Homo sapiens: one gene and its partner. The protein of the gene in region 1 purifies or fractionates together with the protein of each later gene. This does not show direct contact. Each region holds a gene or a part of one and is shown on either strand. Other genes may lie near its edges.

Region 1 (3,113 bases):
CTTCAAAGATGGGAAGAGCTGGGACCTGCCAGAGAGGCCAGGCCAGCCCTCAGACAAATGAGTCCATCTGCATTCTGCGCACAGCCACATGCCCACAGTAATTGGTGAGGCGAGAATCTTGGGGAGCAGCGGGGAGAGGGATCAATCTGGCTCGCTTTGGCACTAACAGGCCGGCCGCTCCATGAGCAGCAGGGGTTGATGCCTGCTGGTGTGAGCCTGTGCCACTCTGAAGATGGAGACACTTAAGACCATAGGGCTGGTCTGGGGAGAGGCCCCTCCAAGACTGCACTGGTGACTGGTTTGGAGTTTCAGGTCCACGGTTTCGCTGGGTGTGGATGTGAAGTGGTGAAACCTCCAGTCCATCCATGTTCAGGCTCCTGGCCTCTGTAGGGGAGTTGCCCCTCTTTTGTCTTGGCTGGACCAAGGGGCAGGGGCAGAATCCATTTCCCAGCCCTGTTGGGACACCCTGGGCTGTCAGCCCTGTCTTGGGGCTGTTCCAGCAACAGGCCAGACTGAGCTGCAGCCTGCTTCCTAGTGAGTCCTCCTCTTCCTGGAGACTGTAGAAGGCCAGCAGGCAGCAGAGGTGTCCCCTGACCCACTCTGTTCAGCTGTGTGTGTGCTGTCTCCATCAAGCTTCTTTCTGTCTCTCCGGTGGGTGATGGGGGCTACAGTGAATGTCTGTGGTCTGGACTGGCTGCCCCCAGTAGTGGTTCCTTGTGTTCAGGAGGCAACCATGGAGCTTTCTTTTTTAAAAAAAAATTTATTAATTTTTTTTTTTCTTTGAGGCGGAGTCTTACCATCTTTCCCAGGGTGATCTTGAACTCTTGGGCTCAAGCAGTCCTCCTGCCTCAGACTCCCAGAGTGTTGGGATTATAGGCGGAAGCCACTGCTCCTGGCTTTTGGGGTTTTCTTGAGCTGTGATCCAAAAGCTATTGTGGCAGCTGTCTAGTCCAGTTGCCCTGCATATTGGCCTTAATACCTCAATATGAATATTTTTTTTTTTTTTTTGAGACGGAGTCTCGCTCTGTTGCCAGGCTGGAGTGCAGTGGTGCGATCTTGGCTCACTGCAACCTCCGCCTCTCAGGTTCAAGCAATTCTCCTGCCTCAGCTTCCTGAGTAGCTGGGACTACAGGCACGCCACCACGCCCGACTAATTTTTGTATTTTTAGTAGAGACGGGGTTTCACCATGTTGGCCAGGATGGTCTTGATCTCATGACCTTGTGATCCACCTGCCTCAGCCTCCCAAAGTGCTGGGATTACAGGCATGAGCCACCACGCCTGGCCCTCAATATGAATCTTGAACTACACAAGCCCCCAGGAGACTTACCTGCCTGTCGGGGAGGGCTGTTGCTCTCTGCGCCCACCCACAGCCCTTGGATAGTAAGGCATCTATGGGCCTTCGTTGGCTGCATGCTCCTGGACCCTGACTTTCCTCCTCCTGGGGGCCAGCATCTCCCCAGGAGTCACTGGGTGCTGCTGGCCCACTGATGAGGATGACCCTGTTAGGTGTGTTTGGGAATATGGTTCCCCTGTTGCTCCCACTTCAGCTCAGTAAAACTTGGAATAACCTTCCAAAGAGTGGGTGAAGACAGCAGCTGCAGGTAGCCCCAGGCCTTCCTCAGGACGGTGGAAGCGTGTTCTCCCTGCCTCATCCCTCTGTGGCAGTGGGGAAGGGGGTAGGGAAAGAGTTGGAGGTCAGGCGAGCCAGACTGGGAGTAGCAGTAGTCAGTGAGTGTGTGTGTCTGCTAGATGGCTGTGCACCTGCCCTGAAGGTGGTCTCTCAGATCCTCCTGAACCCCCTGGAGGGCATGTTCAGGGGTTCCTCAAGGTGAAGGGTACCATGGGTGGTGAAGGGTACCATGGGTGGAACAGGCAGACCTCACCTGGCAGGAAGGAAAGTGAGGGGATCGTTAGCATCCCTGTTGAGTCATCTGCAGCAGGCTCAGGAAAGGTCCTAGCTGCCTATCCTTGGGGGAGCCTCAGAGCCCGTGCCAGAAGTGTTCCTAGGAGATGCAGGGACGCAAGGACTCACCTGGCTGAGCCCCAAGGCCTGGAAGCAGCTCCAGGAAAGGGCACCCATCCGGCAGCACCGTGGGTTGTTTACTGTCTGAGCCTGTGCCTACTGAGTGCTTCCTGTATGCGCAGCACCAGGCACGGGCTCATCCAGCTCAGCATGATCTCATGGGAATACTAAACGAACATGAAATTGCAGTCTCACGTTACAGCTGGAATAATTGCTGGAAGCACTGGGGGCTAAGAGGGAGTCTGAGCAAGTGTCCTTTACCCTGAGAACCTGAGGATCCAGTCAGGTGAAGACAGCCGTACAACCTGAGGCCCTGAGACAGACAGCTGCTGGGTTCGGGGCTGAGATGAGGCAGCCCGGGGTGCATGTGGCAGAGTGGGCTTTATGGAGTTCCTCCCAGGGGACAGAATGTACTAAAATGAGGCTGGCGCACAGCACTGCCAGGAGCCCTTTGTGGCTTAGAGAAGTAATGCGGGCCAGAGGGTGCCACTGAGAAGGGTCCTGGTTCCTTCCTGGTCCCGGGATCGCCTGCCCTCAGCCGACTGGGAAATCTAGTTGCCTTGAATTGTTTCCTTTCCTCCCCATGCCGGGAGGCAGAGGCAGGGAGCAGTGGTCTTCTGCCACTGCTTCGGCAGTTGGAGAGAGGTTGGATCTTCTCTGTAAGGACTAGGAAGTTCCCCTTTAAGTAGCCTGATCCTGGTCATCCAGAGATTGGAGCTTCAATCTGACTTAGGATGTGGTGGGAAAGTTTGAATCATTCTCTAACAGTCCCCTGAGTTATGATACTCCTGGGACAAGTTCGGGGGGGTCTTGGCAGAGGCCATCTCCCTGAGCCAGGCTTTGGGTCCAGTGCACCATAGAATTTGCTCCCTGGGAGAGTGCACAGGTCCTTTCCTTCCTTGCCAGACTCCATCACCTGGAGAGCAGCCCTTGTTCAGCCTGAGCCAGCGTTGGGCGGGGAGGCCCCAAGTGCTACATGAGAGGAGGGGCAGCACCTCTCTCTGGAAAGGGGAGGGTTGCTGAGTAGTGGCCTCATCCAGATGGGGTGGGCAGTGTCAGATGCTCTCACTCTAATGCTTGTCCTTGGTC
Region 2 (3,652 bases), on another chromosome or scaffold:
GTCTGCTGGAGTTTGCTGGAGGTCCAGTCCAGTCCCTGTTTGCCTGGGTATCACCAGCAGAGGCTGCAGAACAGCAAAGATTGCTGCTTGTTCCTTCCTCTGGAAGCTTTGTCCCAGAGGGGTACCCGCCAGATGCCAACCAGAGCTCTCCTCTATGAGGTGTCTATTGACCCCTGATGGGAGGTGTCTCCTAGGCAGGAGGCACAGGGGTCAGGGACCCACTTGAGGAGGCAGTCTGTCCCTTAGCAGAGCTTGAGCACTGTGCCGGGAGATCCGCTGCTCTCTTCAGAGCCGGCAGGCAGGAACGTTTGAGTCTGCTGAAGCTGTGCCCACAGCCGCCCCTTCCCCCAGGTGCTCTGTCCCAGGAAGATGGGAGTTTTATTTATAAGGTCCTGACTGGGGCTGAGGCAGCATTTTGTTTCCTTTTTTTGTCTTGGAGTGTTCATTCTTTATTCTTCACTAGACTGAACTTAGTTCTTAATCGTTCTTTTATCCTCAATATATTAATAGACTCTTGCTATCATAGGTCCTTATATTGTGAGTTAAGTGAATGAATTGTTGCTATCTTGGGAATTACTGCTTAATTTTTGTTTTCCTTCTAGGACCTCGACTGGATTTTGATCCTGACATTGTTGCAGCTCTTGATGATGATTTTGACTTTGATGATCCAGATAATCTGCTTGAGGATGACTTTATTCTTCAGGCCAATAAGGCAACAGGAGAGGAAGAGGGAATGGATATACAGTATGTGTGGTTTGTTTCAAAGCAGAGATGATGACCTAAGTGTTACTGCTTCAGTGGGATGGTAACCATAGAACGTTACAGTTGGAAGAGACCTTCAAGAGCATTTAATCTGAGACTTCTGTATTTTAGAGCAGAAAATGTGAGATTCATTGCTTTTCCTACCAAACCAGATTGATCAAACACCCTCACTCTTCCTGCCTAGACAAGAACCCTTCCTGAAATACCTTCCAATTTTACTTGTGTAAAGTGGTTTTGTTCTGTTACTTTTTAAGTTGTTTTGGTAGGTAATTTATGACCTTTACTTTAGGAAATCTGAGAATGAAGATGACAGCGAGTGGGAAGATGTGGATGATGAGAAGGGAGATAGCAATGATGACTATGACTCTGCAGGCCTATTGTCAGATGAAGACTGTATGTCTGTGCCCGGAAAAACTCACAGAGCTATAGCAGATCACTTGTTCTGGAGTGAGGAAACAAAGAGTCGCTTCACGGAGTATTCGATGACTTCCTCAGTCATGAGGAGAAATGAACAGCTGACCCTACATGATGAGAGGTTTGAGAAGGTAAGGTCCCCACATAAGGGATGCTTTAGTACTATCTTATGTTAAATTTTTTTTTTTAATACCTGTCAGCTTTAGCCCAGGTTGAAGTGCTCACCAACCACAAAGTCAATCATAGGAAGTTTACAACTATCCAGCTATAGGTTCGTGTAGCCAGCATAAAGCAGAAGGGTATCAGTGCAGTACAGGAGCACAAAGACTGCAAAGGGAGCATAGAACTGTGCAGAAGAAGAGTAATTGGTTAGGAGGATGTGACTTTTCCAATTTACATCACACGCTTACACCAGGAGGTGGCTCAAATGATGCCTCATTCAACCTGAATGGGTAACCAAAAGTAGCTGTAATAGTTTTATTCTCACTAACTGTGGTAGGACAACTCACTTGAGTTTCTATTTGGCCCTTAAAACCCCCAGAAGTGGCCCTTAAACCCTCACCATCTCTAATGTTGTGCTTCTTTATTATGTATGTCATATATGGATTTGTCTCAGATTAGAATGTGAATCCCCCAAGGGCAGAGAGTTTTTTATATTTTGCTCACGATACATCTGAAAGCCTAAAATGGTGTCTTGGCATGTAGTAGAAGTTTAAAGTGTTCCATAAATGATAAATGAATGAAGGAATAGTTTCCTTCAAGGTGACTCTAAAGATAGAAGCAGTCCACTCAAGGACCTTGACGAAGCCGAGCGGGTTGAGGTTGATCTGGAAACTGGAACATCCTCTGGCCAAGTCAGCTGATCCGCCCGCGAGCTAAGTAGATGTTAGGCGCCTTGCTGTGTGCCTTGTTTTTTTTTGTTATTTTTCTTTTTTTATTTTTTAAAAAGAGAGATTGGGACCCAAAGCTAAAACTTTTGAGTGTTGAAAACAGCGTATCTCTTTATTAAAACAGAGCATAAAAGCACCTTAGTTATTGTCGTTTTCCCTTTACATATTCTATGAGGCCAGTCACCCTAGTTTTGATTCTGGAAAGAACGTGTGTAGGTCAAAAGGAGTTGGCTGATCAAACGTTCTTATTTTCCCCCTTGAATTCTGACATCCTGATTCTGAATTTCTCCAACAGTAATCCATAAGATGCTATATTTCTGAAGTATTGGCCTGATTGAGCACATCAAAATTCCATTTCTTTCCGTTTCTCATCTGGTGTTTTCAGACATAACTAACACTGAGGAATAGAATGGAAGTAGAGTATAAGACACTTTTGAAAGCTTGTATTTTCATATACTCTATTTGGTTCTGTTGTAACAGATTAGCTCCAGGGTTTATAATCCCAACCTATAGACTGTTTATACAGGTTTTTAATCCCACCTATCCTGTTGTTTGTTCTGTAGCACATAACACCTCCTAACATCATCTCTAATGTTGTGCTTTATTATGTATGTTATATATAGATTTGTCTCAGATTAGAATGTGAATTCCCCAAGGGCAGAGAGTTCTTTGTATTTTGCTCACGGATACATCCAAAAGCCTAAAATGGTGTCTTGGCATGTAATAGAAGTTTAAAGTGTTCCATAAATGATAAATGAATGAAGGAATAGTTGCCATCCAGGTGAATCTAAAATAAAGGCTGTTACCTTGCTACCTTCTCACCTAATACTATTTTCCCTCTTCTCTTGAGGGAGAAACAAACTGTTGCTACAAATCTCACTCTTCAGGAGATATATCCCCCCCATTTACTCTTTGTCAAAGCTTAACAGTGTCAACACCATTTGCATAATATAGTAATTATTGTCTAAACAAGAACAAATATATACATTAGTAGGTGAATTTTCAGTTGCACAATCTTTTAGTTTGCATAACTAAGGAATATGAAAATATCTTTAGTCTAGGCGTAGTGTCTCGTGCCTATAATCTCAGAACTGTGGGAGGCCGAAGCAGATGGATCACTTGAGCCTAGGAGTTTGAGACTGTCTTGGGCAGTGCAGACCCTGTTTCTATTTAAAAAAATAAATAAAATGGCCTGGTATGGTGGCATGTGCCTGTGGTCCCAGCTGCTTGAGAGGCTGAGGTGGGAAGATTGCTTGAGCCTGAGAGTTTGAGGCTGCAGTGAACTATGATCACGCCACTGTACTCCAGGCTGGGAGACAGTGAGATACTTAAAAAAAAGAAAAAGTATCTTCAAAAATGTTCTGACGTAATCTGTGCTGCCTAGCATTTTGTTCTCCAAGCTGAGTGGAATAATGCCTTTCATTTACATGTTAAATGGAAGCCTATTTTTAGGCTAAATGTAAGTCTTAAAGTACTGAGCAGAAATATCTTCCACATCCTATTGTTGCATTAAATCCCTACTGATATTTTAATGGTAATTGTGATAGTACCTGAATAACTATTGTGTAAGAATAAAGTTAATGTAA

What was found. The genes of interacting proteins can lie anywhere in the genome.
Region 2: the proteins of PSKH1 (region 1) and LTV1 purify together in Homo sapiens (affinity purification with mass spectrometry; one large-scale study listed by BioGRID and IntAct). This does not show direct contact.

The regions. Positions count from the first base shown.
Region 1 is NC_000016.10:67,924,207-67,927,319, forward strand, and holds part of PSKH1 (serine/threonine-protein kinase H1), read left to right. Parts: intron 1-3,113. UniProt on the Homo sapiens protein: Serine/threonine protein kinase that may be involved in the regulation of pre-mRNA processing.
Region 2 is NC_000006.12:143,856,701-143,860,352, forward strand, and holds part of LTV1 (protein LTV1 homolog), read left to right. Parts: intron 1-602; coding exon 603-744; exon of another isoform or gene 745-881; coding exon of another isoform or gene 882-883; intron 884-1,051; coding exon 1,052-1,307; intron 1,308-3,652. UniProt on the Homo sapiens protein: Essential for ribosome biogenesis.